Homo sapiens: one gene and its partners. The protein of the gene in region 1 purifies or fractionates together with the protein of each later gene. This does not show direct contact. Each region holds a gene or a part of one and is shown in the gene's direction. Other genes may lie near its edges.

The links.
Region 2: the proteins of USP42 (region 1) and CA2 purify together in Homo sapiens (affinity purification with mass spectrometry; one large-scale study listed by BioGRID and IntAct). This does not show direct contact.
Region 3: the proteins of USP42 (region 1) and LRRC47 purify together in Homo sapiens (affinity purification with mass spectrometry; one large-scale study listed by BioGRID and IntAct). This does not show direct contact.
Region 4: the proteins of USP42 (region 1) and DHX8 purify together in Homo sapiens (co-immunoprecipitation; one large-scale study listed by IntAct). This does not show direct contact.
Region 5: the proteins of USP42 (region 1) and BMS1 purify together in Homo sapiens (affinity purification with mass spectrometry; one large-scale study listed by BioGRID and IntAct). This does not show direct contact.
Region 6: the proteins of USP42 (region 1) and CPNE3 purify together in Homo sapiens (affinity purification with mass spectrometry; one large-scale study listed by BioGRID and IntAct). This does not show direct contact.
Region 7: the proteins of USP42 (region 1) and MRPS21 purify together in Homo sapiens (affinity purification with mass spectrometry; one large-scale study listed by BioGRID and IntAct). This does not show direct contact.

The regions. Positions count from the first base shown.
Region 1 is NC_000007.14:6,149,947-6,154,182, forward strand, and holds part of USP42 (ubiquitin carboxyl-terminal hydrolase 42), read left to right. Parts: coding exon 1-356; intron 357-465; coding exon 466-560; intron 561-3,010; coding exon of another isoform or gene 3,011-3,023; exon of another isoform or gene 3,024-3,717; intron 3,718-3,809; coding exon 3,810-4,236. UniProt on the Homo sapiens protein: Deubiquitinating enzyme which may play an important role during spermatogenesis.
Region 2 is NC_000008.11:85,477,091-85,481,326, forward strand, and holds part of CA2 (carbonic anhydrase 2), read left to right. Parts: intron 1-29; coding exon 30-185; intron 186-3,579; coding exon 3,580-3,699; 3' UTR 3,700-4,236. UniProt on the Homo sapiens protein: Catalyzes the reversible hydration of carbon dioxide. Can also hydrate cyanamide to urea. Stimulates the chloride-bicarbonate exchange activity of SLC26A6. Essential for bone resorption and osteoclast differentiation.
Region 3 is NC_000001.11:3,789,814-3,794,049, reverse strand, and holds part of LRRC47 (leucine-rich repeat-containing protein 47), read left to right. Parts: intron 1-4,236.
Region 4 is NC_000017.11:43,500,797-43,505,032, forward strand, and holds part of DHX8 (ATP-dependent RNA helicase DHX8), read left to right. Parts: intron 1-3,847; coding exon 3,848-4,029; intron 4,030-4,236.
Region 5 is NC_000010.11:42,792,499-42,796,734, forward strand, and holds part of BMS1 (ribosome biogenesis protein BMS1 homolog), read left to right. Parts: coding exon 1-116; intron 117-458; coding exon 459-646; intron 647-1,353; coding exon 1,354-1,493; intron 1,494-3,975; coding exon 3,976-4,236. UniProt on the Homo sapiens protein: GTPase required for the synthesis of 40S ribosomal subunits and for processing of pre-ribosomal RNA (pre-rRNA) at sites A0, A1, and A2.
Region 6 is NC_000008.11:86,548,440-86,552,675, forward strand, and holds part of CPNE3 (copine-3), read left to right. Parts: intron 1-2,606; coding exon 2,607-2,661; intron 2,662-2,743; coding exon 2,744-2,795; intron 2,796-4,236. UniProt on the Homo sapiens protein: Calcium-dependent phospholipid-binding protein that plays a role in ERBB2-mediated tumor cell migration in response to growth factor heregulin stimulation.
Region 7 is NC_000001.11:150,296,409-150,300,644, forward strand, and holds part of MRPS21 (small ribosomal subunit protein bS21m), read left to right. Parts: intron 1-4,236.

The DNA.
Region 1 (4,236 bases):
GCAGTGAATCCTGCTCCCAGCCCGTGATGAATGGCAAATCCAAGCTGAACTCCAGCGTGCTGGTGCCCTATGGCGCCGAGTCCTCTGAGGACTCTGACGAGGAGTCAAAGGGGCTGGGCAAGGAGAATGGGATTGGTACGATTGTGAGCTCCCACTCTCCCGGCCAAGATGCCGAAGATGAGGAGGCCACTCCGCACGAGCTTCAAGAACCCATGACCCTAAACGGTGCTAATAGTGCAGACAGCGACAGTGACCCGAAAGAAAACGGCCTAGCGCCTGATGGTGCCAGCTGCCAAGGCCAGCCTGCCCTGCACTCAGAAAATCCCTTTGCTAAGGCAAACGGTCTTCCTGGAAAGGTGAGTGCACGTCAGGGTCTTCAGCCTCGTTTGTGGCGGTTCCCTTGGCTGGATTTCAGGAGGCATGGAGCTGGCGACTGAAGCTGAAATATTTTTGTTTTTATTGCAGTTGATGCCTGCTCCTTTGCTGTCTCTCCCAGAAGACAAAATCTTAGAGACCTTCAGGCTTAGCAACAAACTGAAAGGCTCGACGGATGAAATGAGGTAACGTAAGAGTACATCTGAGGCACGTGTGGCAGCATAGTAGGAAATCCAGTAGCCTCCAGATGTGTCAGTATTTGAATGCTGTAGAAATTTTATAATGAACATTTTGAATCCTAGAATGATTTGAATTATAATGTATAGGATTTATTAACTTGCCTTTTAGAAGAGTAAAGAAAAAATGTGGCATACAGGACTGAGTCCACGGAAACTTGATGTACTCACCATGCTATTTCTCCTCCTGCGTGGCCACCTCTCTCTGGTTAGCGGTGTTACTGGCACGCCTTCAAGTGCCATCTCATTTCATCTTTCTCATGAGAAATGATGATGTGAGGGTGTGCTGAGGGTCTAGGCCAGGGCTCTCAGTCCTGTGAAGAAGCACATACAGACATCCGTCCGTCCACAACAGGGATGCCTTCTGAGAAATGCATCGTTTGGGGATGTGGTTGTCATGCCAGCACCACAGTGTGTCACACAGACCTAGATGGTGTGTCCTGCGGCTCCTAGGCCACAAACCTGCACAGCCTGTGACTGCACTGGATCCCGTAGGCAGCTGTAATACAGTGGTATTTGTGTATCTAAACATAGAAAAGGGACAGTAAAAATATGGTATAAGAGGAAAACTGGCACACCTGCACAGGGCACTTACCATGAATGGAGCTGGCAGGACTGGAGGGTGCTCTGGGTGAGCCAGTGAGTGAGTGCTGAGTGAATGTGGAGGCCTGGGACGGTACACTACTGTAGACTCTGGAAACACTGCACACTTCAGCCGCACTCAATTTGTTAAAAAAATTGATTTCTTCAATAGTAAACACACCTTAGCTTACTGTAACTTTTTTACTTTATAGACTTTTAATTTTAAACTGTTTGACTCTTTTGTAATAACACTTAGCTTAAAACACAAACATACAGCTGTACAAAAATAACTTCTTTTTTTGTTTGTTTTTTTGTTTGAGACGGAGTCTCGCTGTGTCACCAGGCTGGAGTACAGTGGTGCGATCTCAGCTCACTGCAGCCTCCGCCTCCCAAGTTCAAGCAATTCTCCTGACTCAGCCTCCTGAGTAGCTGGGACTACAGGCATGCGCCACCCCACCCAGCTAATTTTTTTTTTGTATTTTTAGTAGAGACAGGGTTTTACCATGTTGGTCAGGCTGGTCTCAAACTCCTGACCTCAACTCATCCACCCGCTGTGGCCTCCCAAAGGGCTGGGATTCCAGACGTGAGCCACCGTGCCCGGCCAGCAGAGTCGTTTATTGCCATTGTCATGTATTATGTACTAATCGTATGTGCTAGACTTCCATGGGACTGGCAGTGCAGTGGGTTTGTTTACACCAGCATCACCACACTCACGAGGCACGCGTTGCCCTTGGACTGTTACAGTGACGGGAGTTTTCAGCTATGTTGTGATCTTATGGACCGCCATCATATGTGGTCTGTTGTTGACCGTATGTATGAGGTACATGACTGTACTTTGTAAAGGCCCTTCAAGGATTCTGAAATTATAGATAATAAAACCTGCCCCACAATTTAAAAAAAAAATCATGTCATGTTAGTGAAGAATGTGAATGTAACGTTGGTCAGGAGTGAGAGGAAGGGAATTTGTCATGCAGCGTCAGTGGCTTCACCTCGCAAAGCAGCAGCAGGACGGCCCCGTGGCGAGAGGCTGTGCAGGCGGTGCTTGCATCTCTGCACAGGTTGGCTGTGAGTGACAGCTCAGAGTGCGGCCGGATGTCACCATACTCGGTGCCAGGCGCGGGTTCATCATCAGGAAGTCGTGTTCTCATGGCGAACAACTTCTGGTGAAGTTCTGATCAAATCACAGCATGAGCGACTCTAGATTTATATACTGGGTGCCTTCCTGGAAACGTCAGTGTCAGTGAAAACCGTGCCAGTGACACACCCGTAGTTTTTACCCGCACGGTTGTTGGCACTCACCTGTGGGGGTGCTGTTCATGCTGGCGGGGCTCCCATCACTGTGGCAACCCCAGAATGGCCCCCGGCGGGTGGGAGTGCCCTCACTGAGGCCCTCTGTTAGGAGGGCGTAGATATTAAACCGGAATGGGGCGAACCCTGTGGGCAGGGAACACTCATTCCCAACCTAAGGATAGGCCAGCTTGGACACTCGCTCCCTCGGCCAGGGGACTCTGGCCTCACCTAGGCCAGGTAGCGTGAGGGTGAGGTAGGTGGCTGTGCAGACAAGCCCAGGCCACAGCAGCTTTCATTATTAACCCCGAGGATATATCGAAAGCTCTGCGGGAATCAAAGGACAAAGTTAATTTACTACAGAACGTTTTGCTAAAGCCTCTGATTCCTCATAATTTGTCAGTAATTGGAGGAGCTGCTGGCTGTGTTTGGAGGTGGCCCCTCTACCTTTGAGGGTCCAAGAGAAATCAGAGAAAGGGAGTCGAGAGGAAAGGAGGAGGCCCTGTCATCACTGGACTTTTTTTCTTTAGTCTTAGTTATTAGGAAGAACTAGAGGAATTGCGGCCAGGCGCGGTGGCTCACGCCTGTAATCCCAGCACTTTGGGAGGCTGAGGCGGGCGGATCACCTGAGGTCAGGAGTTCGAGACCAGCTTGGCCAAGGTATAGTGAAACCCCATCTCTACTAAAAACACAAATATCAGCTGGGCATGGTGGTGGGCACCTGTAATCCCAGCTACCCGGGAAGCTGGGTCAGGAGAATCGCTTGCACCCAGGAGATGGAGGTTGCAGGGAGCTGAGATCACACCACTGCGCTCCAGCCTGGGCAACAGAGTGGGACTCTGTCCTTCAAAAAAACAAAACAAAATGAAACAAAACAAAAAAAAAAAATAGAGGAATTGGAAGAACTAGAGGGATATCCAGAAACAGGAAGAGCCTAGAACTCTAGGATTATTGTTTTGAAAAATAGGCTAGGAGCTGGGCTTGATGATATAACATTTTATTTTTATTTAATAAGGGAAAGAGAAAATTGGGAGTTTCCAGAGATAGTAGTACTAGCCTAATATTGGGCTTCGGCGAGATGTATTTAAAGAGACGAAATAGCTGCTAAATGACGAGTTAATGGGTGCAGCACACCAGCATGGCACACGTATACATATGTAACTAACCTGCACATTGTGCACATGTAGCCTGAAACTTAAAGTATAATAATAATAAAATAAAGAGACGAAATAGCAAATGAACGTTTTGAAGTATTTGTCCTTGTAATGCAATGACATGAGCCTGTCAAGCCCACGCTAACGGGCGTGTTTGTTTGTTTGGGGGCTGCAGTGCACCTGGAGCAGAGAGGGGCCCTCCCGAGGACCGCGACGCCGAGCCTCAGCCTGGCAGCCCCGCCGCCGAATCCCTGGAGGAGCCAGATGCGGCCGCCGGCCTCAGCAGCACCAAGAAGGCTCCGCCGCCCCGCGATCCCGGCACCCCCGCTACCAAAGAAGGCGCCTGGGAGGCCATGGCCGTCGCCCCCGAGGAGCCTCCGCCCAGCGCCGGCGAGGACATCGTGGGGGACACAGCACCCCCTGACCTGTGTGATCCCGGGAGCTTAACAGGCGATGCGAGCCCGTTGTCCCAGGACGCAAAGGGGATGATCGCGGAGGGCCCGCGGGACTCGGCGTTGGCGGAAGCCCCGGAAGGGTTGAGTCCGGCTCCGCCTGCGCGGTCGGAGGAGCCCTGCGAGCAGCCACTCCTTGTTCACCCCAGC
Region 2 (4,236 bases), on another chromosome or scaffold:
TTTGAAGCTGCGTATTTGCCTTGTTCTAGGGCAAGAGTGCTGACTTCACTAACTTCGATCCTCGTGGCCTCCTTCCTGAATCCTTGGATTACTGGACCTACCCAGGCTCACTGACCACCCCTCCTCTTCTGGAATGTGTGACCTGGATTGTGCTCAAGGAACCCATCAGCGTCAGCAGCGAGCAGGTTTGTTTTGTAATGACAGGTCTGTTTACGGGTGGAGCATTTAGTCAAGGCAGAAGACCTTGGCCTCCAGAGTGAGAGAGAACTGAGATTTAATCCTTCTCCTGCTACTTCTTGCTATGGAAATAGTGCCTTTGATGGTGCCTAGCAAATAAACAGCGTTCAGTAAATCTTTGTTGTTATTAACTATAAACTTAGTTCGTTTAGTCTCTAAAATTGAATAGTCATTGTAAGGATTCAATGAGAAAGATGTCTGTCACCTAATAAATGCCTTTTTTTTTTTTTGCCAGTTATGAGGAAACTAAGGCTTAGAAAAGTGAGAGTTCATATTCAAGGTTACGCAGGTATCAGTGAGTTACCAGCCTACTACTCACTCACATAAGGGCTTTCTGCTATTTTATTTATATCAGAATGCATTTCTGAATCCTGACAGATGAGAGTCATCCCTTGGAGAACATGTATCTATTAAAACTCACTCCAGGTTGCTTTAGAGGCTTAGAGCAGGTATTCTTACATTTCCAATAAAATATAGTGTGTGATCGTCAAGTGATTAGTGCAGCTTCTAAGTCACTGATGAGCAGCCACTAAAGTGGATACAAATGAGTTTTTCCTAGACTTACCTCTTAGCGCACAGTTGAAATGTAGAAAGTGAACATTCCTTAGGATTCACAAGAGGATGGATCCTGAATAATTTAAGGATAGCTTTAGGAGCCAACAGTCTTGAAAATGGTAACTATGTGAGTAGTGGTAGTGTGATTTAAACCTACAAAAATGCTGAATAATAGAGGTTTAGAGCTGCAATGTGCAATAGAGATCATGTTGTCCAACTTTCTCATTTCACTGGCTTGAATCACATTGATCAACAGTCTGAGATGCAGGAAAATTGAAGTGTTTTCCACTCAGCTACCTTGCAACAGAATCAGGCCTGGGAGCAAGGATTCTATTCCTGTGTCCTCCCTTAGAATATGAACTTATGAATGCTGAAGATACTTCATATCTTTCTTTAAAGGAAATATGTATCTGACTGGAAAATTACTTGTAGCATATCAAAGTGGGCCTAAAAAATAGCATGCTTGGTATGTCACTTGAAGATTGACCTTGTAGTAATAACATATTTGAGTAAGCTTCTTGAAGTGTAGCGTAAGGAAAGATTATAATGCCCTTCTTTTTGTAGATGCAGTGTTTACATTATAATTTAAAACATGAATTTTTTTTTCTTCTTTCACTGAGAGCAATGCAACTTTAAAGCAATAGTCTGACATTTAGAGCCATTATAACAAATGGATTTATGGTGTATACACACCCACAGGCAGAAATACACATATAGATAAGGGCAGTTGAACCTACTGCATTAATCCCTGTACCCTGAGTTTGCTCTTTAAAGTTGAAAGTGGTATTAAACTAATGATGTTAATTGTATATATTGGCAAAATACCAATAGGGCTCTTTTTTTTGTCCTATAACATGGAATCTGGAGGAAGGATCATGCTCAGCTCAGGAAGCTAGGGCTGCAGGTCCTCCTCTATCTGAGTCCCTTGACTTGGCCTTGCCAATTGGTGACTTCATCCTCAAGGTGGTTGTAATAGCATTTTGAGCATCACATCTAGATATAACCACTTCTTGAGGAGGAAATGAATACCTCTTCCATTGGCTTCCTAAGAGCAGAGAAGCTCTTTCCTGAAGGCCCCTAGAAAACCTTTCACTTCTCACTGGCTAGAATTGTGTTTCTTGCTCAGTCCCTAGCCCGGGAATGTGATCATCACAGTCAGTTAAGACCTGCAGGTTTACCCCACTGAGGCTTACAGGGAGAGGGCGGATGTCTGTTAATGAGGAAGTATGGGGGGGCGTGGATTTTAGGTAAGCAGTATAAATGGGTCTGCTAATTCTGCTACCTTTATTTTCTATACCCAGGCTCTGTCTCTGTGATGCTAAAACAATGAGTCAAGTTGACTAATGTGACAGTGTAGTTTAATTGGTGCAGTGAGTAGCAGAAATCGGTTATACTGGTTTGATCAAAAGTTTGACCTGTTTACACTTTATGAACAGACTCTCTTTCAGATTGCTGGAATTCTGTTGTAACGAATCAACCCTATATATCCTTAGAATGCTCCCTTGCATTCAGTAACCATAGCTGTGCATGTTATAATGTATGTGCATGGAAGGTGGCTCTACGGGGGTGATTGAGGGACTATTACTGGACAAAAGAGATCAGGTTAAAGGCTGTTGATTCATGGGCTGCTATATTACTGTCCAAACCACCCTTTTGCATTTGGATCACGTCTTGGTTAGAGGGGGGAAAGTAGCACTTTTTGAGAACCTTGAAGAAGTGGGAGACTGTTCAACAGCTGCCTGTATCTCAGTGGTGGCCAGTAAACTGAAACAAGTTTATAAGGGAATAAAAATCAACCAGTGACAAGGGGTTCTAATGTTAAATGCATATATTGGCAAAATGCCAGTAGGGCTATGTAGGGTGGTGAGCACTCACAATTGTTCACTAAAATGCTGTTTTTAAAACAGGAAAGTAGAATGGTTGAGTGCAAATCCATAGCATGAGATAAATTGAGCTTCTTAAGGCAAATCAGCCTAGGCAAATTCATTTCCGTGTTTTTGTGTATTTGGAGATGCCAGCTCGTCACTCAGCCCATGGAGCTTACAGGTCCTGATCACTTGATCTAATTGTATGGATGTGGTAGTTTGTCTTCCCTGGGGCAGAAAACAAAGCTTTAATTTGGAACTAAAATTGTTATTATTTTGCATCTAAAGGTATGAGTTTATAGACTTTTGATGTTAGATTTTTAAATTAGAAGGTCACTGAAAATTTCCCTTAAAAATGACCCCAACGAATTTGTGTATTTTGTATAAATTGGTTTGTTATATTAAAGCATACATACATAATCTATATGTGATTATGTATTCATTAGGAATCAAACTGAATTTTGGCCATTGATGCACAGCACTGAATGTTGTGGAATGTAATTTTTGTTTGTTTTTGTTTCTGTTTTTTGAGGCAGAGCCTTGCTCTGTCGCCTAGGCTGGAGTGCAGTGGCGCAATCTCAGCTCATTGCAATCTCTGCCTCCAGGGTTTAAATGATTCTTGTGCCTTAGCCTCCTGAGTAGCTGAGATTACAGGTGCTCTACCACGCCTGTTTAATTTTTGTGTGTGTGTGTGTGTGTTTTTTTTTTTGTAGAGACAGGGTTTCACCATGTTGGCCAGGCTGGTCTCGAATTGCTGACCTCAAGTGATCCACCCGCCTCATGCCTCAGCCTTACAAAGTGCTGGGATTACAGGCATGAGCCACTGCGCCTGGCCGGGGAATGTATTTAAAGATATAACACAAGTATATAACTGAATACCATTGTGAAACATTAATTATCAATGTTTTATTGTGTCTTTTAGGTGTTGAAATTCCGTAAACTTAACTTCAATGGGGAGGGTGAACCCGAAGAACTGATGGTGGACAACTGGCGCCCAGCTCAGCCACTGAAGAACAGGCAAATCAAAGCTTCCTTCAAATAAGATGGTCCCATAGTCTGTATCCAAATAATGAATCTTCGGGTGTTTCCCTTTAGCTAAGCACAGATCTACCTTGGTGATTTGGACCCTGGTTGCTTTGTGTCTAGTTTTCTAGACCCTTCATCTCTTACTTGATAGACTTACTAATAAAATGTGAAGACTAGACCAATTGTCATGCTTGACACAACTGCTGTGGCTGGTTGGTGCTTTGTTTATGGTAGTAGTTTTTCTGTAACACAGAATATAGGATAAGAAATAAGAATAAAGTACCTTGACTTTGTTCACAGCATGTAGGGTGATGAGCACTCACAATTGTTGACTAAAATGCTGCTTTTAAAACATAGGAAAGTAGAATGGTTGAGTGCAAATCCATAGCACAAGATAAATTGAGCTAGTTAAGGCAAATCAGGTAAAATAGTCATGATTCTATGTAATGTAAACCAGAAAAAATAAATGTTCATGATTTCAAGATGTTATATTAAAGAAAAACTTTAAAAATTATTATATATTTATAGCAAAGTTATCTTAAATATGAATTCT
Region 3 (4,236 bases), on another chromosome or scaffold:
CTAATTTTTCGTATTTTTAGTAGAGATGGAGTTTCACTGTGTTAGCCAGGATGGTCTCGATCTCCTGACCTCATGATCTGCCTGTCTTGGCCTCCAAGGTGCTGAGATTACAGGCATGAGCCACCGCGCCCGGCCGAGTTTTATTACTAAATCAGCTTCCCCAAAAATTTGGAGGCGGGGTTTTTCAAGGATAGTTTGGGGAAAGGGGAGGGTGGCTAGGCAACGGGTGCTTGCTGCTGATTGGTTGAGGTGCAATCATAGGGGTGTGGGAAACGGTCCTGCTTACTGAGTCACTTCTGGCTGGGGCTGCGGGGAGCTCTTTTTGGTTTCAGGTAGAGCCATTGATCAGACATGCAAAAACCCTGAAAAGACACAGCTCAGAAGGCCGGTCTTAGGTTCCACAGTGCTGCTAGTGCTGTTATCTGCAGGAGTCACTGGGGAAGTCGCATATCTTGTGACCTCCAGAAGAATAGCTGGCAGTTGTTTATGTCTACCCCTTAGCAGAATTCAGGTTCCTCCATCCTCCTATCCTCGTGGACCCTCATTAGCTTTACAAAGGCAGTTGAGTTTTACGGAAGGAGTATTATCATTTAAATTACAAATGTCTCCCAAAGTTAGCTTGGCCCAAGCCCAGGAATAATTAAAGGTAGTTTGAAGGGCCAGGCGCGGTGGCTCCTGCCTGTAATCCCAGCAGTTTGGGAGGCTGAGGCAGGCGGATCACCTGAGGTCGGGAGTTCTAAACCAGCCTGACCAACATGGAGAAACCCATCTCTAGCTGGGCATGGTGGCACATGCCTGTAATCCTAGCTACTCAGGAAGCCAAGGCAGGAGAATCGCTTAAACCCGGGAGGCGGAGGTTGCAATGAGCCAAGATGATACCATTGCACTCCAGCCTGGGCAACAAGAGCAAAACTCCATTTAAAAAAAAAAAAAGGTAGTTGGAAGGCCAAAGATGGGGATTGGTTAGATCAGATCTCTTTCACCACCATAATTTTCTCACTGTTACAGTTTTTGCAAAGGTGGTTTCATTGGCATTTCCTGGAAGAGGCGAGTTCACTGGCATTTTCCTTGGTCCTCAGGGCTGTAGGCATCCCTCTAGGACTAAGGTGTGATGTTGGATACAGCATGGTCTACTCCCACCTTCCCACCTGACAGATACTTTTGGTTTTCCAGAGTGTTGATGTACTAGGCATGTATCTTAACATTGTGCCTTACATCATGTAAGTGTCCAGTCAGTTGCAATATTTCTCTTCAAATTCATAGATGTCTTTCAGTATTCAAGTTCTTAAAAGTGTTGTGGGCCAGGCCCACGCTTGTTATCCCAGCACTTTAGGAGGCCAAGGCGGGCGAATCACGAGGTCAAGAGATCGAGACCATCCTGGCCAACATGGTGAAACCCCGTTTCTACTAAAAATACAAAAATTAGCTGGGTGTGGTGGTGCATGCCTGTAGTCCCAGCTACTCGGGAGGCCGAGGCAGGAGAATCGCTTGAACCCGGGAGGCAGAGGTTGCAGTGAACCGAGATTGCACCACTGCACTCCAGCCTGGGTGAGAAAGTGAGACTGCGTCTCAAAAAAAAAAAAAAGTGTGCGTCCAGCTCTCTGTAGCACCTGCCTGGTAAAGCATTCCTCTTTATGGTGCCCAAAACAATGTCATTCAAGTCAAAGAGTGTGTCTTGTTTTCTAAATCCCAAAAGAGGTGGCCAAGTTCCCTTTCCCCTGGGCCATTCTGTTCGTAAATTTTAGGCGTCCAGTGGCTCTCTATCAGGAGACCTGTTTCTTGGAGGGTCATGCAAGAGCTATTGGAATCCCTTGTTGCACTCAGATGTCCTTTTGGGTACCTTTCTGAGGAATGGCTACCAGAACTATGCCCAGCAATGTAGCTACGCACATTGGAATTTCGCACACAAAGGCAAATGCATTTGATGTCCTTCCTGGTGCTGTGGGGAGATGGGGAGTGTAGAAAACCAGAAAACTGAGCTCAGAAACAGAAGGCAGGCTGGGCACAGTGGTTCATGCCTGGCATCCCAGCCCTTCAGGAGGCTGAGGCGGGCGGATCACTTGAGCCCAGGAGTTTGAGACCAGCCTGGGCAACATGGTGAAAACCTGTCTCTATAAAAAATACAAAAATTAGCTGGGTGTGGTGGTGTGCACCTGTAGTCCCAGCTACTCAGGAGGCTGAGGTGGGGTGAACGCTTAAACCTGGGAGGTTGAGGCTGCAGTGAGCCATGATCACACCACTGCACTCCAGCCTGGGCAACAGAGCTAGACCCTGTCTTAAAGAAAGGAGAGAGAGGCCGGGTGCGGTGGCTCATGCCTATTATCCCAGCACTTTGGGAGGCTGAGGCGGGCGGATCACCTGAGGTTGGGAGTTGAAGACCAGCCTGACCAACATGGAGAAACCCCGTCTCTACTAAAAATACAAAATTAGCCGGGCGTGGTGGCGCATGCCTGTAATCCCAGCTACTCGGGAAGCTGAGGCAGGAGAATTGCTTGAACCTGGGAGGCGGAGGTTTCGGTGAGCCAAGATGGTGCTGTTGCACTCCAGTCTGGGCAATAAGAGTGAAACTTCGTCTCAAGAAAAAAGGAGAGAAAGAAGGGGGAGGAAAGGAAAAAAAACAGAAGGCACGGGCTCCAGCCCTGTCTCTCTGTGGCTGCGTGCCGTTGGGTCTTGAAGGCTCTTTGCTCCTCTGTAGGAAGACTGGGAGGGTAACGCAGTACACGAAGAGGGAAAGAGATGGGGGAGGTAGTGCTGGTCATTGTGGCTGCTTGACTCCGAAACCACGAGGCTTAAAGCAGCAGCGGCTCTGCGCTCTGGGCTGGCTCCGCCAGACAGTGGACAGTGAACAGTGGACAGTGCTGCAGCTCTTGCTGCTGGTCGCTCGCGTGGCTGTGCTCAGCTGGCGTGGGCTCAGGGCTGGGCTGCCGGGGTGGGTGGGCTTCTCCGTGTGTCGTCTCGGGGCCTCTCCCTCCCCTTCTTTCACAGGGCTCAGGGCTCCTCAGTACAAAAGCAGCAGCTGCCAGCCCTTCTTCAGGCATCAACCTGGAACATGCTTCCTGCCACTTTCCTGCGTTCCGTGGGTTAACTAAGTGCGAGCCCAGTTCCGGTTCTTTGGGAGGACTGGCTCTTTAGGGGCCGCCAAAATAACAGCACAGAGCTTCTGCCTGTCCTTTCCCTCCCCAGAGGGGCGAGACTGCAAATGGAAGCAGCTCGGCCTGGCTCCTAGTGCCCATCCCCACAGCCATTCCCCAGGGAGCACCCCCAAGCCTGGGCTGGGACCTGCAGTGCAAAGGCCCTGACCCTCTTTCCTCCCAGCCACTGGGGACGAGGCCTCTGCTGTCCTATGGCCTCAGCAGTAGCTCTGCCTGCGTGGGAGCCTGGCTTCCCCAGTGTCCTGGCCTCAGAGCCACGTGGCTTGCTGAGACCTGAGAGCACCCGGCCGGCCCTCCCTGGCTGCTTCCCGCTGCTGTGGCCCGTGGGGCTCAGCTGGCAGTGCTGTGGTGAGCCGAGGATGGGGGCACGTCACACCTCTCCTGACTGCATTGTAAGTGGCCATCACGCAGGCGTGTGGTGTCCGTGTGGGAATGAGGGATGGATGGGACAGATGTTACCTGAACAGCTGATGTGGGCAGGACGGTGCCTTAGTAAAGACATCCTTTCAGGCCCTGGGCCACTCCCCTCCCAAGGCCAAGCTGCACAGGGGAGTTCAGCCTCAATGTGAACCCTCCTGAAGCCAAAGGCTCTCCCCCAGCTTCCGAGTTTCTCAGTTGCTGCCGGAGGGAGTGGGGCTCACTCAGGGGCTGGCGCTCCTTATTGGGTTGGTTTATGTCAGCCTGTCACCACCATGAAGTTAGGATCCTTCCCCGGCAGCAGGTCCCCTGCAAAAGCCATGGGCCCGGAAGGCAGCCGGTATGCCAGGCCAGAGTCAGGACCCACGTTGCTGCCGTCAGCTTAGCCACTGCGAGGGTTGTGTTTCCTGCAGTAGAGTGTCAGCTCCGGGTGACAGGTGACGGCATTTCATCCCATCAGGTGTCAGGAGGACCCCTAGCCACCCCCTGTGTAACTCATCCTCCCCAAAGCCAGTGTGCACCTCACATCCTTGCGGGCGCGCCTGCTTGCTCCCTCACACAAGTGAAAACTGACGCCACCCTCATCCACCCTTCATGTGTGAAATCTCTGGCTTCATTTCCTGCTGAGGCCGCCACTGGGTGCCCAGTGCTGGCCTGAGGGGCCAGC
Region 4 (4,236 bases), on another chromosome or scaffold:
GCTACTCGAGAGACTGAGGCAGGGGAATCGCTTGAACCCTGGAGGCGGAGGTTGCAGTGAGCCAAGATCGCGCCACTGCACTCCAGCCTGGCTACAGAGTGAGACTCCGTCTCAAAAAAAAAATTTTTATTCTAAAGGTAATACAGCTTTGAAGCTTCCTTTTTCATATAATTCTTTGTGCAGTAAATATTAGCTACTAGATATAGTCATAACAAATACTTATTAATTTAATTTGTGTTTGGCAACTGGGGATACGATTTGAATTAAACAGATATGATCCCTGCTTTTATGCGCTACAACTTAGTCGGGGATATGGATATTAATTAAATAATCACCAAATAATTAAATTATGATCAGTGCCATGTGAAGAAGTACAGGCAGTGTAATTGACTGTGGTGGGTCACTTCCCTGGGGAAATCGAGACCCAAAGGATAAATTGGACTCAGTCTGTCAAGTGGAGATGGGATGGAGGTTGGGGAGTATGTTCCAGCCTGAGGAGTAGCCCGTGTTGGGTTTGTGGGGTGGGAAAGAAGGAACTGAAAGAAGGCTTGTGTGGATGGAATAGAGAGAGCAGTGGGCAGTGGTAGGGGATGAGATAAGAACATCAGGCCAGGGCTTTGTAGGTGGCATTAGGAAGCTGGGCTCAATTCTAATAGCACTGGGAGATGTTGAAAAGTTCTTTTGTTGTTGTTGTTTTTGTTTCTGAGACAGAGTTTTGCTCTTGTTGCCTAGGCTGGAGTGCAACACCATGATCTTGACTCACTGCAACCTCCACCTCCCTGGTTCAAGTGATTCTCCTGCCTCAGACTCCCAGGTAGCTGGGATTACAGGCATGCACCACCACGCCTAGCTAATTTTTTGTATTTTTAGTAGAGACGAGGTTCCTCCATGTTGGTCAGGCTGGTCTCGAACTCGCGACCTCAGGTGATCCCCCCCCCATCTCAGCCTCCCAAAGTGCCGGGATTACAAGTGTGAGCCACCGTGCCCAGCCAGATGTTGAAAGTTTGCAGCTGGCACATGGCATGACCAGAGTTGCATTTCCAAAGGATGATTGAGGGTGCCCTGCAGAATGAGTTGGATGGGGCACATGTGATGATTTAGAAAGCTTTTATGAAGAGAGAGAATGGTGGCTTGAACATGGAGGTAGCAAAGAGGAGGGATGTACTTGAGAAAAGTAATTTGTTGAATGTGGGGCAACAGGAATGGTCAAAGATGACTTCCAGGTTTCTGGTATGAGCACTAGGATGAATGATGGGAACACTGGAGGAGAAATGGGTTTGTGGGGAAAGATGGTCAAATTCCGTTTTGGACTTGTGTCCGAGGCAACTAGAGGACATCTTAGGTTGAGGTATCCAGTGTAGAATTGAGTATAAGAGCTCAGAAGAGAGGTCTGGGCTGGAGACAGAAGTTTGGGAATTGTGTTAATTTAGATATCAGTTTGGCTGCATGTAATAGAGATTCAAATATTAGATTAGGTTCGGCATGATGGCTCACGCCTGTAATCCCAACACTTTGGGAGGCCGAGGCAGGAGAATTGCTTGAGGCCAGGAGTTCAAGACCAGTCTGGGCAACATAGTAAGACCTTATCTGTATTTTATTTTATTTTGTTTTGTTTTGTTATTTTAGTTTAGTTTAGTTTAGTTTTTGAGATGGAGTCTCACTATGTTGCCCCAGCTGGAGTGCAGTGGTGCAGTCTTGGCTCACTGCAACCTCTGCCTCCTGGGTTCAAGCGATTCTCCTGCCTCAGCCTCAAGTAGCTGGGACTACAGGTGACCGCCACCACGCACGAGTAATTATTTTGCATTTTTGGTAGAGACAGCGTTTCACCATGTTGGTCAGGCTGGTCTCGAACTTCTGACCTCAAATGATCTTGCCCACCTTGGCCTCCCAAAGTGCTGGGATTACTGGTGAGCCACCGTGCCTAGCCCTTGTCTCTATTTTAAAATTAAATTTTTAAAAACGACAAAAATAAAAACCAAAATATTAGATTTACAGTAGAAGGTTGGACATATTCGTTCATTGTTTAACAATATCATCTTCCATTTCCTCAGAATAAACCCATTCATTCCCTTTTACCCTTTAGTGAAATGTTCTCCATGACCCTCCTTTGGCCTCTGCCTAAGCTCACTTATTTGGTTAGTAGGCATAAGTATTTTTTCGTAGCCAGCTTTTGGCATCAAATTTGTAAAATGTTTGCATATGCTAGAGAGCCACTAAAATTCTGCTCATTTTTTTTTGCTCCTCAAGCCACAATTCCAAGGTGAATCTTGAAAATATAAGCTAGGTCTGGGCAAGGTGGCTCACACCTGTAATCCCAGCACTTTGGGAGGCTGAGGCAGACAGATCACTTGAGTTGGGGAATTTGAAACCAAGCTGGGCAATGTGGTGAAACCCTGTCTCTAAAAAAATACAAAAATTAGTCCAGGCATGGTGGCTCATGCCTGTAATCCCAGCAGTTTGGGAGGCTGAGGCGGGTGGATCACCTGAGGTCAGGAGTTTGAGACCAGCCTAGCCAACATAGTGAAACCCCATCTGTGCTAAAAACAGAAAAATTAACAGATGTGGTGGCACGCACCTGTAATCCCAGCTGCTAGGGAGGCTGAGGCAAGAGAATCACTTGAACCTGGGAGGCGGAGGTTGCAGTGAGCCGAGATCACGCCATTGCACTCCAGCCTGGACAACAATTGCGAAACTCCATCTAAAAAAAAAAAAAAAAAGTTTAGCCGTGTGTAATCACGTGCACCTGTATTCCCAGCTACTCAGGAGGCTAACGTGGGAGGATTGCTTGAGCCCAGGAGGTGGAGGTTGCTGAGCTGAGATCTCGCCACTGCACTCCAGCCTGCTGGGCGTCTGAGCCAGACCCTGTCTCAGAAAAAGAAAAAAATTAATCTGAGAGAAACCAGGCACAACAGACCACATATTGTATGAAGTATCCAGAATAGAACCCGTAGACATAGAAAGTAGACTAATGGTTGCCAAGGGAAAGGAAAAGGGAGGAATGGGGAGTAACTGCTAATGGGTACAGGGTTTCTTTCTGATATGATGAAAATACTCTAAATAGTGGGGATAGTTGCACAACTTAATGAATATACAGTAAAACACTGAGTTAAACACTTAAAAAGAGTAACACGGAGACCTGGCTTGGTGGCTCATACCTGTAATCCCAGCACTTTGGGAGGCCAAGGAGAGAGGATTCCTTGAACCCAGGAATTTGAGGCTGCAGTGAGCCGTGATTGCGTCACTGCACTCCAGCCTGGGAAACAGAGCAAGACCCTGTCTCAAAAAAATAAAATAAAATAAAAAAAGTGTAACATGGTTTGTGAATTACATCTCGATATAGCAGTTATTTAAAAAGGGGAGAGTGCTGCGCATGGTGGCCATACCTGTAATTCCATTACTTTGGGAGGGTGAGATGGGTGGATTGCTTTAGCCCAGGAGTTCGAGACCAGCCTGGCAACATAGAGTGACCTCTTCTCGCTTGAGCCCAGAAGGTCGGGGCTGCAGTGAGTCAGGATTGCACCACTGCACTCCCACTTGGATGACAGAGCAAGACCCTACCTAAAAAAAAATAATTCCAGTGTCAAGCAGTCAGGTCTTCACTTCTCTCAACTAACCTTTTTTCTGACATCACAGGTGTGTAGCACCACTTGTTACAGTCTCTTTCCCATTCCCTGCTGCCCCTTCTATATTCTTTTCTTCACATTAATTTGTTTCTTTGAGTACTTTTGATCACGGGTCGCTGAATTGAGATGCTGCATGTGCAGTGCCCGCATGCCATTTTATTTTTTTCCTGGTACATCTTGAGGTAGCTTGAGGACAATACTAAGTTGCCTGTTTTCCTTTCCAGCGGAAGGCAGACAGATTGCTGCCAACATGAGGGGTATTGGGATGATGCCCAATGATATTCCTGAGTGGAAGAAGCATGCCTTTGGGGGCAACAAAGCCTCTTACGGAAAAAAGACCCAGATGTCAATCCTTGAGCAGAGGGAGAGCCTGCCCATCTACAAACTGAAGGAGCAATTGGTCCAGGTGAGAAGACTTTTATGATGTATTGGTGGGGAGTAGGGTTATTGTCTAAAAGAGGGGTGATATTTTTAAACTGAAACTAACGGGACAAGTATGTGCCTACTTGAAGTGGCTCATCCAAAAGAGTTAAGAAAGAAGGATAAAACTTTCTAAATACTTTTTTTTTAAATGGGGCTGGGCGCGGTAGTGGATGCCTATAATCCCAGCACA
Region 5 (4,236 bases), on another chromosome or scaffold:
AGATTTGACAAACCCAGAGGATATCCGAACAAACATCAAATGTGACCGGAAGGTGTCACTTTATGGTTATTTAAGAGGAGCACACTTGAAAAATAAAAGCCAAATTCACATGCCAGGTATTCTCTTGTTGTAGAACATACTAGAATTACACATAGGATTCTTGGGATGGCTTCATTTCTCAGGAAAACTGAAAAATGACCAAACAAGGGAAGATGGCCTTGCTGGAGGTTTTAAAAGTAAGCCACCTATGTGTAGGCCTGCAAAGGTGTTACTGAATCCCCTCTTCTCTGACCTCTTGTCTTGTAGCTAGGGGGCCACTGTTCCAGTGTGGCACAATGCCCTTCTTTAGTGTTATGGGTTAAGCCCTTGGACTGTGGATCATATTTAACCCCCTAGTCAATGGTAGATGCTTCTGACTTCTTGTCAGCTGAAGCTGGCTTTTGGGTTCTGTCTTCCAGGGGTAGGAGATTTTGCCGTGAGTGACATCAGTTTCCTCCCAGACCCTTGCGCTCTTCCTGAACAACAAAAGAAGCGCTGTTTAAATGAGAAGGAGAAGCTGGTTTATGCGCCTCTTTCTGGAGTTGGGGGTGTGCTGTATGACAAAGACGCTGTCTATGTTGACCTTGGTGGCAGCCACGTTTTTCAGGTATCGGTGAGACGGGAGTCATTTCTCTGAACTTTCAGTATTCTTTCTGAATCTATTTTTTAATCACAAAAAGTAATGTACTCAGCTTTTATTTATTGAAGATTTTTCTCTTGTACTTATAATAAAGGCCCAAATGCATATTGTAAATATATAGGATAAAAATAATACTTTTTTTTTCATTGTACCAAGCAGAAGAGTCCTCTCCTTCATTCCTCCTTGATCCATGGCCCCAGCACAGGCATTGCTGCTGTGTGGCGCCTGCACGGCCCATCCCCGTTTCTACAAAATCAGTGTGCTTTCCAGCTTTCATTGGTCTTTTTCTCATTCACAATGGTCTCCTCATGCTGTATTTTAAAGTGGATTTCAAATATTTATTTCTTTGTTCTGAAGTGGAATTTTATTGGGTTAAAATCGGCTTATTTTAAAATATTAGAAAAGCTAGCATTGTTGTAGCTTTGGAGCTGAGGTTTTTCTAGCTAGGTTGTTTAGGTTATCAGGTTATATACTCCCTGAACTTTGGAAAAGTTTAATGGAGATGGGGATCCATTTCAAGCTTTGTTGTAAGGATTTTCTTCTCTGCTTTTTGAGGCATTAAGAAAGGTTCTTAGGAAATGTGTCTAAGATAATTTTGAGAAACTGAGTGAAGCTCGTGTCTCTCCAGGATCTTTGTGCTTTCCTCACGTGCCCTTTCTTGGTGGTCTTGACAGGATGAAGTGGGGCCCACCCATGAGCTGGTCCAGAGTCTCATCTCTACCCACTCCACCATTGATGCCAAGATGGCTTCAAGTCGAGTGACGCTGTTTTCTGATTCCAAGCCACTTGGGTCAGAGGATATAGATAATCAAGGGTAAGTCTGCTTTTTTTCTATTTTTAATAAAAAGATGTATTACAAAAGATCATATCACCCATAATTCAGCCATCATAACACATTTCGGTGGGATTCATTCTATGTTGTTTTGTTTTTCTTTGTGTGTGCATGTGTCTCTGAGGGCTCTTCACTTACCTGACATTACAAGGGAGTCTTTTCTTGAAATAAATTGCAGGATGCATTTTTCAACAGACCCCAAATATTCCTCAAATACCATGCCATCTTCCATAGGTTGCCTTTTGTTTTTTAAGAGACCTGAAGCCACTTGGCTTTCTTTTGGTGGCCAAAACACTAGAGCAAAGTCAGGGAGTTTGTGGCTGTCCAGAAGCCACATGCCTTGTCTCTGAAAGTTTTATTTAGATTGTGTTGTATTATCTCCTCTGGGTAGGTTTCCGTGGATGTATGGCTCATGTGAATTATTTTCCAGTCTGGGTTGGGGATTTGTATACCTTTATATGCAGTGGATGTTTGCAAAACATTGGTTTTGTTGTATTGATTTATGACTCCCAGTAAAATTTATCTGAAAATTTTGAGATTATCTAGTATGTAATTTGGTACAATGTGCATAAACTACCTAGCAGAATGCCTGACAGGTACGAAGTGTTCGCCGAAAGATCACTCCTTTATAATGGGATTACTAGCTATTTTCACTTTTGCATATCCTTCTAGTCATCTTTGTCTACAAGAATACTCTCCTCTAATATAGTTACAGTTAAAATACATAATTTTATTTCTATATTATCATTTCCTTCTTTTTTTTTTTATTATACTTTAAGTTTTAGGGTACATGTGCACAATGTGCAGGTTAGTTACATATGTATACATGTGCCATGCTGGTGCGCTGCACCCACTAACTTGTCATCTAGCATTAGGTATATCTCCCAATGCTATCCCTCCCCGCTCTGCCCACCCCACAACAGTCCCCAGAGTGTGATGTTCCCCTTCCTGTGTCCATGTGTTCTCATTGTTCAATTCCCACCTATGAGTGAGAATATGCGGTGTTTGGTTTTTTGTTCTTGTGATAGTTTACTGAGAATGATGATTTCCAATTTCATCCATGTCCCTACAAAGGACATGAACTCATCCTTTTTTATGGCTGCATAGTATTCCATGGTGTATATGTGCCACATTTTCTTAATCCAGTCTATCATTGTTGGACATTTGGGTTGGTTCCAAGTCTTTGCTATTGTGAATAGTGCGGCAATAAACATACGTTTGCATGTGTCTTTATAGCAGCATGATTTATAGTCCTTTGTCATTTCCTTCTTCTATACAGTCTTTATGTAGTCATCATTTTGTTATTATTGGTGTATTCTTTTTTTTTTGTGACAAGATCTTGCTTTGTCTCCCAGGCTGGAGTGCAGTGGTATGATCTTGGCTCACTTCAGCCTTGAACTCCCAGGCTCAAGTGGTCCTCCTGCTTCAGCCCCCCAAGTAGCTGGGACTACAGGAGTGCGCCACCACTCCTAGCTAATTTTTTTTTTTTTTTCTAGAGATTAGGTCTCACCATGTTGCCCAGGCTGGTCTCAAACTCCTGGGCTCAAGCAATCCTCCTGCCTTGGCCTCCCAAAGTTCTGGGATTACAGATGTGAGCCACTACCCCTGGCCTATTATTGCTGTATTCTAACTTACCCGTCTCTTATGGTATGATTTTCAGTTTTTTCAAATTTATGTTTTCTTAATTTTATATATCTTGCTACATTAAATAGCTTCATACAGTTTTCTTTTATCCTGTGATTTTAGCTTCCTGATGATTCTTCTGTATCAGTTATAGCACTGGTGACTTAAAATGGATGTTCTTCCTCTGTCATTCCTCCTACGTTTGTTAGCTGGCATTTTTAACAAAGAGCTTTCTCTTCTCCCCTTTATTTCGGTATCACTGCTGACTAATGCACTTGTGTTTTGTTCCATGGGTTATTTTCCATCACTATCATTATTCTTCCTGATGCCTATGCTGGCCCAGATTTGGCTGCAGGAGCCTTCAGCCTGTCTCCTGTGTCCTTTCAACTGTCTCTGTTAGTCTTTGAGCATTTCTCACTTTCTGACAGAACAAGAGGATCCAGGCTCATTTTGCCTTCTTTCTGCTTTGGGCCTGGACTTACCCATTTCTCTTAAGGATCATGTGTTTTTAGCTTAGAAATTAATCAGCTTTCCAAAAGATCTACAAAACAGTAACTTCTCTTTTGAGCAATTTTTTTCTAAAATTAGATTTTTGTTTTTTAAGGGTTATTCCTTTATTCTCTCTATAAGTTCTTTTGAAGTGTGGTGTTAGGGAACCATGCCCGAGTTTGCTTCTTAACTCTTCCAATGTTTATCAAATCATATTTTCCCTATGCTATGTCATCTTAAACAATTCCTTGACATTTTCTATTTCTTTGTATTTTCATTGACTATATTGCCATTTCTAGATTAGCTGATTAATGTACAAATTGAATTATTTTGTATTTCCTTGGTAATACAGGCTAATGATGCCAAAGGAGGAAAAACAAATGGACTTGAACACTGGTCGAATGCGTCGGAAAGCCATTTTCGGAGATGAAGATGAATCTGGAGATAGTGATGATGAAGAAGATGATGAAATGTCTGAAGATGACGGGTTGGAAAACGGCTCTAGTGATGAGGAAGCAGAAGAGGAGGAAAATGCTGAGATGACTGATCAGTATATGGCTGTTAAGGGCATCAAACGACGGAAACTTGAGTTGGAAGAAGACAGTGAAATGGA
Region 6 (4,236 bases), on another chromosome or scaffold:
TATGACTTTGGAAAAACTAAAATACATGTTTTCACAATTCCCCAGAAAGGGTAGTTTGTTTCATCGGCTAGCACTCTGATATAGGTGGTAGGTTGATGATGCTTTCTCCCTAAAATCCCCCCGTCTTATCTTCTATTTTTCTCCTTGTGGCAATCTTGCTGTTTACCTTAGATCTCTAATATCTTTCTGTGATTAGTTATCATATATGGCATGTACTTTGCTTTATATTACATATAGTTTGCTACTTACTTCCTGACTGAATGTCAGCAAGGCTCTTGTTTCTTTAGTCTGGTTTCCTTGGGGCTTATTCATTAGGCATAAGTTGTATGAGTGATTGAAGCCCAGATGACATGTTTTATAAATACTGTTTATAAATACTAAATATTATTTATGTTAAATACTAAATACTATTTATAAATACTAAATACTATTTATGTTAAGAAATAAAAACTATTTCTTAGCATATCTATGTCCTTGGCAGTTGCCAAATTATTTTTTTAACGGTGACTTTTAACAAGTGCTGAAGGATAACTAGATCTAATTGCTATGAAATATTCTGAATGGTTATCAATGGTTAGGTTTTGAAAAGATTTAAATAGGTCCTATTGAGGGTTTACTAAACAATAGGGAAAACATCTGCATTAGTAGTGTTTTTCCTGATGTAGCGTTAAGAGTACAGAATAAAATTTCACTTGCTTTTGTCTATTATTATTTTATTTACATATTGATGGGGCTTTTCATTAATCTGTAGCATTTAAAGAGGTGAAATTTTTAGGCAAATGCAAAGAAATCTAAAGTAAGGTGGCAATTCCAATTTCAGGCTAGTAAGTTTTAAGGTAAAAATCATTAAATATATTTAACATATATAGAAAGTTACTTTATTAGACAGTAGTGAGAGCTTAGAAAGGTGGTCAAATATAACATAGGATTAAAAAATTAATAATTTCTCACTAGCAGATATTAAAAGTATTATTGCAATTATCTTAAGAGTATGGAATTAGGACATGACCAGTGGAACCAAGCAAACAGTCCAGAAATAGACCCATGCATATAAGTGAATTTAGGGGAGGGGGTTGTAAAAGCTGTCAAACTGGACAAGAATTGAATTTGGATCCCTGACTCATACTTGCATGTTTTAGGATATTATTCTGTATAAATTAGAGTACAGACCAGACTGCTGAAATAGACACCCAAAAACAAAGTGGCTTTGACAAAATAGAGGTTTATTTCACTTCACATTGCTAGGGGTAAATATAATAGTTAAGAACTGATAGGGGAGTTCTGCTGTTCTCAATTCACAGCTTCCCTCCGGGGTTCCATAGCTCTGGTTCTCATCTTCTCCAGCCAGGGGGAAGAGAAGAAAGGGACCAGGGAGTGAATGTGCATTCCCTTTTAGGGGCATGATTCAGAAGTGGCTGGCAAATCACTTCTACTCACATCTCCATCTCTAGATCCCAGCCATCTGATCACATCCAGGCCAGAGAAGCTAGGAAGAGCAGTCTCTAGCTCAGGTGTTCTATTATTAAAGGAGAGAATGGATATTGCCGGAGAGCAGCAATTCCTGCTTCATATCCTACTTCAAAACACTTTCCAGATGAGTTAGAAGTTTAATGTCAAAAGCAAACTTTAAAGTTTTAGAAGAAAGTGTATGTGAATTGTTTATAATCTTGTAGTGAGGAAAACCTTTAAGCAAGAGAGCAAAGGCAAAAATCATGCAGCTTTTTTGTGTTCATATTCATTAATATTAAAAACTATGAAAAGAAAGATGCTTTAAACAAAGTTGAAGACAGACTACAAACTGGGGAAAAATGTGTCTTTCTTTCTTTTGAGAAAGGGTCTCGCTCTGTCACCCAGGCTGGAGTACAGTGGTGCAGTCACAGTTCACTGCAGCCTCCACTTCCTGGACCCAAGCAATCCTCCCACCTCAGCCTGGGGGAAATATTTCTGACATGGCATAGGCTCTATCTTCAGTGCAAAACTAACTGTTAAGAATAAATATGAAAGGAATATTCCTCGTAGAAAAATTATGTTCATTATGGTGTTTTATAATGGCGGAACATTGGCTATCAGACATCTGGGGGAGGATATCCATTTTGTGGGATACTCAGTGGCTATTCATGTGATGTTATATATTCGGTCCACTGTCCCTCTCCCTAATGTATGAATGTTTGTATTAAGTGGCATAAATAAAAGCTACCAATAACCTCTGATCATCTGAGGTCAGGTTTTGCTACCAAATGAGTTTGCCATCAATTAGTAAAAAAAGAATTGTGATTTTCAGGGCTTCATGTATTTATTTACTCATTTGATCACTGAAATGATACACAAGATTTAAGTAGAACAGAGTAGGTTATAAAACATGCATGTAAACTCCATTTCTACAAAATCTATAGAAAGAAACATTTTTCTTCCTCAGTGCACAGAAAAATATTTAGGATGAGAGTTGTCAAATATTAACATTGATTCTCTTTGGCAGTTAATATAGGTAATCTTTGTTTTATCTTCATACTTTTTGAAATGAGCTCATATGGATTTTATTGTGGGCAAAGATAAAGCTTTTTATTTTGGAAAAAACAGTATTTTATTAAATATTTTTTTCTTTTTAGTGATAAGATGTTTCCAGCTTTTGGTTTTGGCGCTCAGATACCTCCTCAGTGGCAGGTAAGAGGAAATCTCTATTTTAAAGCTTTGCCTCCTAGAAAAGCAGCCCAGCCCTCATCAGTCCTTTGTCCATCTTTGACAGGTATCACATGAATTTCCAATGAACTTCAACCCATCCAATCCCTACTGCAATGGTAAGTTAAAAAATAAACATGAAGACTTCAAATGGAAAGGCTCACTAGTCTTTGTTATTTTGTTCTTTGTTCTTTGTTTTTTTTCTTGTGATTAAAACTACTCAAATTTCATCTCTAGGTTTCATTTTCTTACATATTTAACTTTCTGTTGTATAAGGTAGAAGAATTGCACCAGGTTGGTGGTTAGGGTGGTAATGGTAATTACGGGGCAAATCAGTATTATGATGATGAAGGTGGTAAGCTAAATCCTCCTACCTTAAGAACTTTAATAGGACAAAAACATTCTCAATCTTTGGAGTAGATCAGTAAAAATATCATATATTAAAAGTATTTTTACATATAAATTTATTTAAAAACAAACCTTCAATAAAATGAGTAATTTGATATACAGATCTTTTGAAGCTTTTTTCAGAGTGGTAGTCACTCTCTACGAAGAGAAAAGTATCCAGCATCTAATACTTGTTGCTCACACAGTATTCTATAAGTAGCTGGGATGGGCAAAAGGAACAAAGAATTGATCTTCTATAGCAGCTTTCCTCTGTGTAGAGAGCAGGAGGCAAATATTTGTCTTTCATTTCACTTTTTTCTTTTATTTATTTAAAAAAATAGAGACAAGGTCTCGCTATGTTGGCCAGGCTGGTCTTGAACTCTTGACCTCAAGCTATCTTCCTGCCTTCTGCCTTGGCCTCCCAAAGTACTGGGATTAGAGGCGTGAGCCACCATGCCCAGCCACGTTTTACTTTTTTCCTTATACCTCAAGTATCCAAGTGCTGCTTCTTTTTTTTACCACATTGAGCAATCAGCCAGAAATGCCAGCTCTTCCACTAAATTATATATCAGACTAAAGAGTTTGGAGAAGGCAAGGTAGGTGTGGGAGCAGAGGCATAATTTAAAATTCTAGACAATACTCTAATTTTCTGCAAAGGGTCCTTTTGACAATTACAAATGTATAGCTTTCTAACAGAAGAAAATGTTTTTTCCTTTTCTTCCTAAACAATATTCATAAGGTGGAAGAGCATGAACAATTTTTGTGGCGGCCGTTTGCAATATGGTTTTGTTCTTTTCCCCAGAACACTTTTTCCATACTAATTCAGTGTTCTTTGAGGCACTTTCAGTGACTGGTTGTGACCTCTTTTATTCCCTAGCCATTTGAAACTGGGAATGTTATTCTTTTTAAGAAATATGCTTCATTTTTATAATGAAAGTGGATAATCTTTAGAATTTGTTGTAATTAGCTTTCATTTATTGTAAATGAATATGGATGACATATCATATGATAATTCATTTTAGAAGTTCAGTCACTCTGTGAGTAATGTAAGCCCATCCTTGGGCTGTTCACCAAGTGGTTTACACTCTGGAAAAAGCATCAGTTTGGTTTTAAACAAAGGAGATACTATACAGCAAAAAGCTCAGAGCCTTATTTTAAGGCAAGGAAGTTTAA
Region 7 (4,236 bases), on another chromosome or scaffold:
TTATCAAAGAATTGTAAGGAAGGGGCTCCTGTAGTGCTAGCTGCTCCAGAGGCTGAGGCAAGAGGATTGCTTGAACCCAGGAGTTCAAGACTGTAGTGTGAGTGCACTCTTGTTGTGCCTGTGAATAACCACTCCACTCTAACCTAGGAAGCATAGTGAGACCATGTCTCTTAAAAAAAATGTAGGAAAGATATTGCATGGGCTGCATTAAGGCCTTTAATGTGGTAGCTTTATTTCACAAGTAAGGGAAGCCTTGGAAGATCAGATTATCTTTATTGGGTTATGCAGTTATTGAATGGTGGAGAGGAGCCTAAAGCACATCTTTTTAGTGCAATGTTCTTTAATAATTATTACTAGTCTTACTAGAAATGGAAAGACTTATGGTGGTTCATTTTCCAATTTAGAATCCTTGTCTTGTCATTTCAGCAGGTGTCGCTTTAAAAAAAAAACCAGAATCCTCATCTGATTGGGTTTAAATATTGGTAGGGTTCTTGAGGACTGAGAGGGCAAAGGAAAGGGAACCTAGTTCTTAGCAAAGCAGAGAGTTCTAGGTGTGGAAGGCTGGATGGCAGAAGACCACAGTGAGGAAAAAAATGCTGTCAGCCGGGCGCGGTGGCTCACGCCTGTAATCCCAGCACTTTGGGAGGCCAAGGCGGGCGGATCACGAGGTCAGGACATCGAGACCATCCTGGCTAACACGGTGAAACCCCGTCTCTACTAAAAATACAAAAGATTAGCCGGGCGTGGTGGCACACACCTGTAGTCCCAGCTACTGAGGAGGCTGAGACAGGAGAATCGCTTGAACCCGGGAGGAGGAGGTTGCAGTGAGCCGAGAGCGTGCCACTACACTCCAGCCTGGGCAACAGAGCGAGACTCTGTCTACAAAAAAAAAAAGAAAAAATGCTGTCAGAAGCTGTGTAAATGAGAAGCAGTTGCAGGCTCAGAATGGTTTCTATGTCTTTTAAAAGGATCTGGTCTTAGGGTCAGGCGTGGTGGCTCATGCCTGTAATCCCAGCACTTTGGGAGGTTCAGGCGGGTGGATCACCTGAGGTCAGGAGTTCAATACCAGCCTGGCCAACATAGCGAAACCCTGTCTCTACTAAAAATACAAAATTAGCCATATGTGGTGGCAGGCGCCTGTAATCTCAGCTACTTGGGAGGCTGAGGCAGGAGAATCACTTGAACCTGGGAAATAGAGGCTGCAGTGAGCCAGAATCGTGCCACTGCATTCCAGTCTGGGCCACAGAGTAAGACTCAAAAAAAAAAATCTGGTCTGGGGTCAGCCACATCACTTAATTCTATGTGCATAACAATTATATCCTTGGGCTGAAGCTGTTCCCTCTACATTGTCACCTATGCTGAGAGTAAAGATAAGTACCAGGTTGTAAGGTATCCTGTTTCATTTTTCTCTGTTTCTCCTCATTTCTAACTCTCCTATTTCATACCTTCTGGTGGCATGTCTGAGAAGTATATTATGTCTAATGACCTTTCTCTGGCCCTACTTTGCTATCTTGGAAGTACAAAATGAACTTTTTTTTTTTTGAGACAGAGTTTCACTCTTATTGCCCAAGCTGGAGTGCAATGGTGCCATCTCGGCTCACCGCAACCTCTGCCGCCCATGTTCAAGCGTTTCTCCTGCCTCAGCCTCCTGAGTAGCTGGGATTACAGGCATGCGCCACCAAGCCCAGCTAATTTTGTATTTTTACTAGAGATGGGGTTTCTCCAGGTTAGTCAGGCTGGTCTCTAACTCCCAACCTCACATGATCCACCCGCCTTGGCCTCCCAAAGTGCTGGGATTACAGGCTTGAGCCACTGCACCTGGCCTAAAATGAACGTCTTTATAGGTAACATCCAGACCCTGCAGTGAGTTAGCTAGGGAGATGAATGTTGAATTTGGGAAAAGGCATGTATTACGTGTAACTTCACTCTTTTTTTCTGACTTCTCCCTGTAAATCTTCTTCTGTATGATTTATTTTGGTAGATTTAGATAGGTCTTCTGGCCATGGTTGTTGAGATGTTTGTTATTGAAAGATCAAAGGATAGCTGTTGCTTAATGGTAAAACAAATTTCCAACAGGCTCAGTTTTAGTTCCCTTATTCCTAAAGTATAGATAACACAAAAGCAAGAATTTTGTTTTTAGAAAATTAGCTACTTTGACAAAAAACAACAAAATTTGTGGTACAGTATTATTTATTGAACCACTTTTTTTTTGAGACGGAGTCTCCCTCTGTCGCCCAGGCTGGAGCGCAGTGGCGCAATCTCTGCTCACTGTGACCTCCGCCTCCCGAGTTCAAGCGATTCTCCTGCCTCAGCCTCCCGAGTAGCTGGGACTACAGGCGCATGCCACTACCCCGGCTAATTTTTTGTATTTTTAGTAGAGACGGGGTTTCACCATGTTAGCCAGAATGGTCTCGATCTCCTGACCTCGTGATCTGCCCACCTCAGCCTCCCAAAGTGCTGGGATTACAGGCGTGAGCCACCATGCCCAGCTGAACCACTTCTTACAGTTGTATCAAGAGAGTAGCGGCTGGGTGCAGTGCCTCAGTCTTGTATTCTCAGCAATTTGGGAGGCTAAGAATGGTGGATCACTTGAGGCCAGGAGTTCGAGACTAGCCTGGCCAACATGGCGAAACCCCGTCTTTACTAAAAATACAAAAATTAGCCATGCATGGTGGCACAGGTCTGTAATCCCAGCTACTCCGTAGGCTGAGGCAGAAGAGCCGCTTGAACCTGGGAGGCAGAGACTGCAGTGATGCCCCATATCATATATGGAATGCATCCCCATTTACACCTAAAATTTGAAACAGAATCTGAGAAACAAAATATTTCTAATCTCCTTCCTGATCCTCTTCACTGATACCAGGTTTGCAGAAAATATAAGGCCAGCTCTTATCTTTTGAGAGAAGACTCTTATTTCTTTGTCTAAGATTGTCTATACCCCTTTTTATCTGCCTCTTTTAAAAATCCTTGTCCAGCCACTATATTTTTAATTTAATCAACACTCAGTTTTTGCTTTTCCTGTTTTTTTTTCTGTTTTTTGTTTGTTTGTTTGTTTGTTTGTTTGAGACGATGTCTCGCTCTTGTCCCCCAAGCTGGAGTGCAGTGGCATGATCTCGGCTCACTGCAACCTCCGCCTCCCAGGTTCAAGTGATTCTCCTGCCTCAGCCCCCCGTGTAGCTGGGATTACAGGCACTTGCCACCACGCCTGGCTAGTTTTGGTATTTTTAGTAGAGACGGGGTTTCACCATGTTGGCCAGGCTGGTCTCGAACTCCTGACCTCAGGTGATCCACCCGCCTCTGTCTCCCAAAGTGCTGGGATTACAGGTGTGAGCCACCACACCCAGCCCACATACTACTTTTATGGTTCTCTTTTTGTTGGTGACTGGCATTTTACACAAACCTATTTCCTGGGTCGAAGTGTTAATATTAGAGAGCCGGAGAGTGGTCAGTGTGACACCCTGTGGTTTCAACCCTGGCTGCCTATTAGGATCACCTAGGGAACGAACCATCAAGAAAACAAAACTAATGCCAGGGCCCAATCTGAGATGAATCAGAATCTCCAGGGGTTGCAACCTGGATGGCAGCATTTTAAAAAACATACCATGAGATTTCACCAGGATTGAAAATTATTATAATAGACTTGTAGCCTCCTGGCTGGGCACAGTGACTCATGCCTGTAATCCCAGCACTTTGGGAGGCTGAGGGGGGCGGATCATTTGAGGTTAGGAGTTCAAGACCAGCCTGGCCAACATGGTAAAACCCCGTCTCTACTAAAAATATAAAAATTAGCCGGGTATGATGGTGCATACCTGTAATCCCAGCTATTCGGGAGGCTGAGGCAGGAGAATCGCTTGAACCTGGGAGCTGGAGGTTGCAGTGAGCCGAGATCGCGCCACTGCACTCCAGCCTGGGTGACAAAGTGAGACCCTGTCTCAAAAAAAAAAAGGCTTGTAGCCTCCTTAAGGACAGAAACCTATGCTTTTTCATTTGTGTATCTCTTGGATTTACCAAAGTGTCTGGCACATCCAAAGCTCTCATTAAATGTCTACTTAATGAACATAAATGTTCCTTTATCTTTTTTGTCACTTATTTAATGTTTGTCAAACTTTTTTACTGAAGTGTCGTTAACAGCAGAGGAGAGTGAATGAACTATAGGGGTTCTGCTACTATAAGCAAACATGGAATTTCTTTGAAGCTTCCCTAAATTAAAATGTAAGGTGAACTTCGTATTCGTTG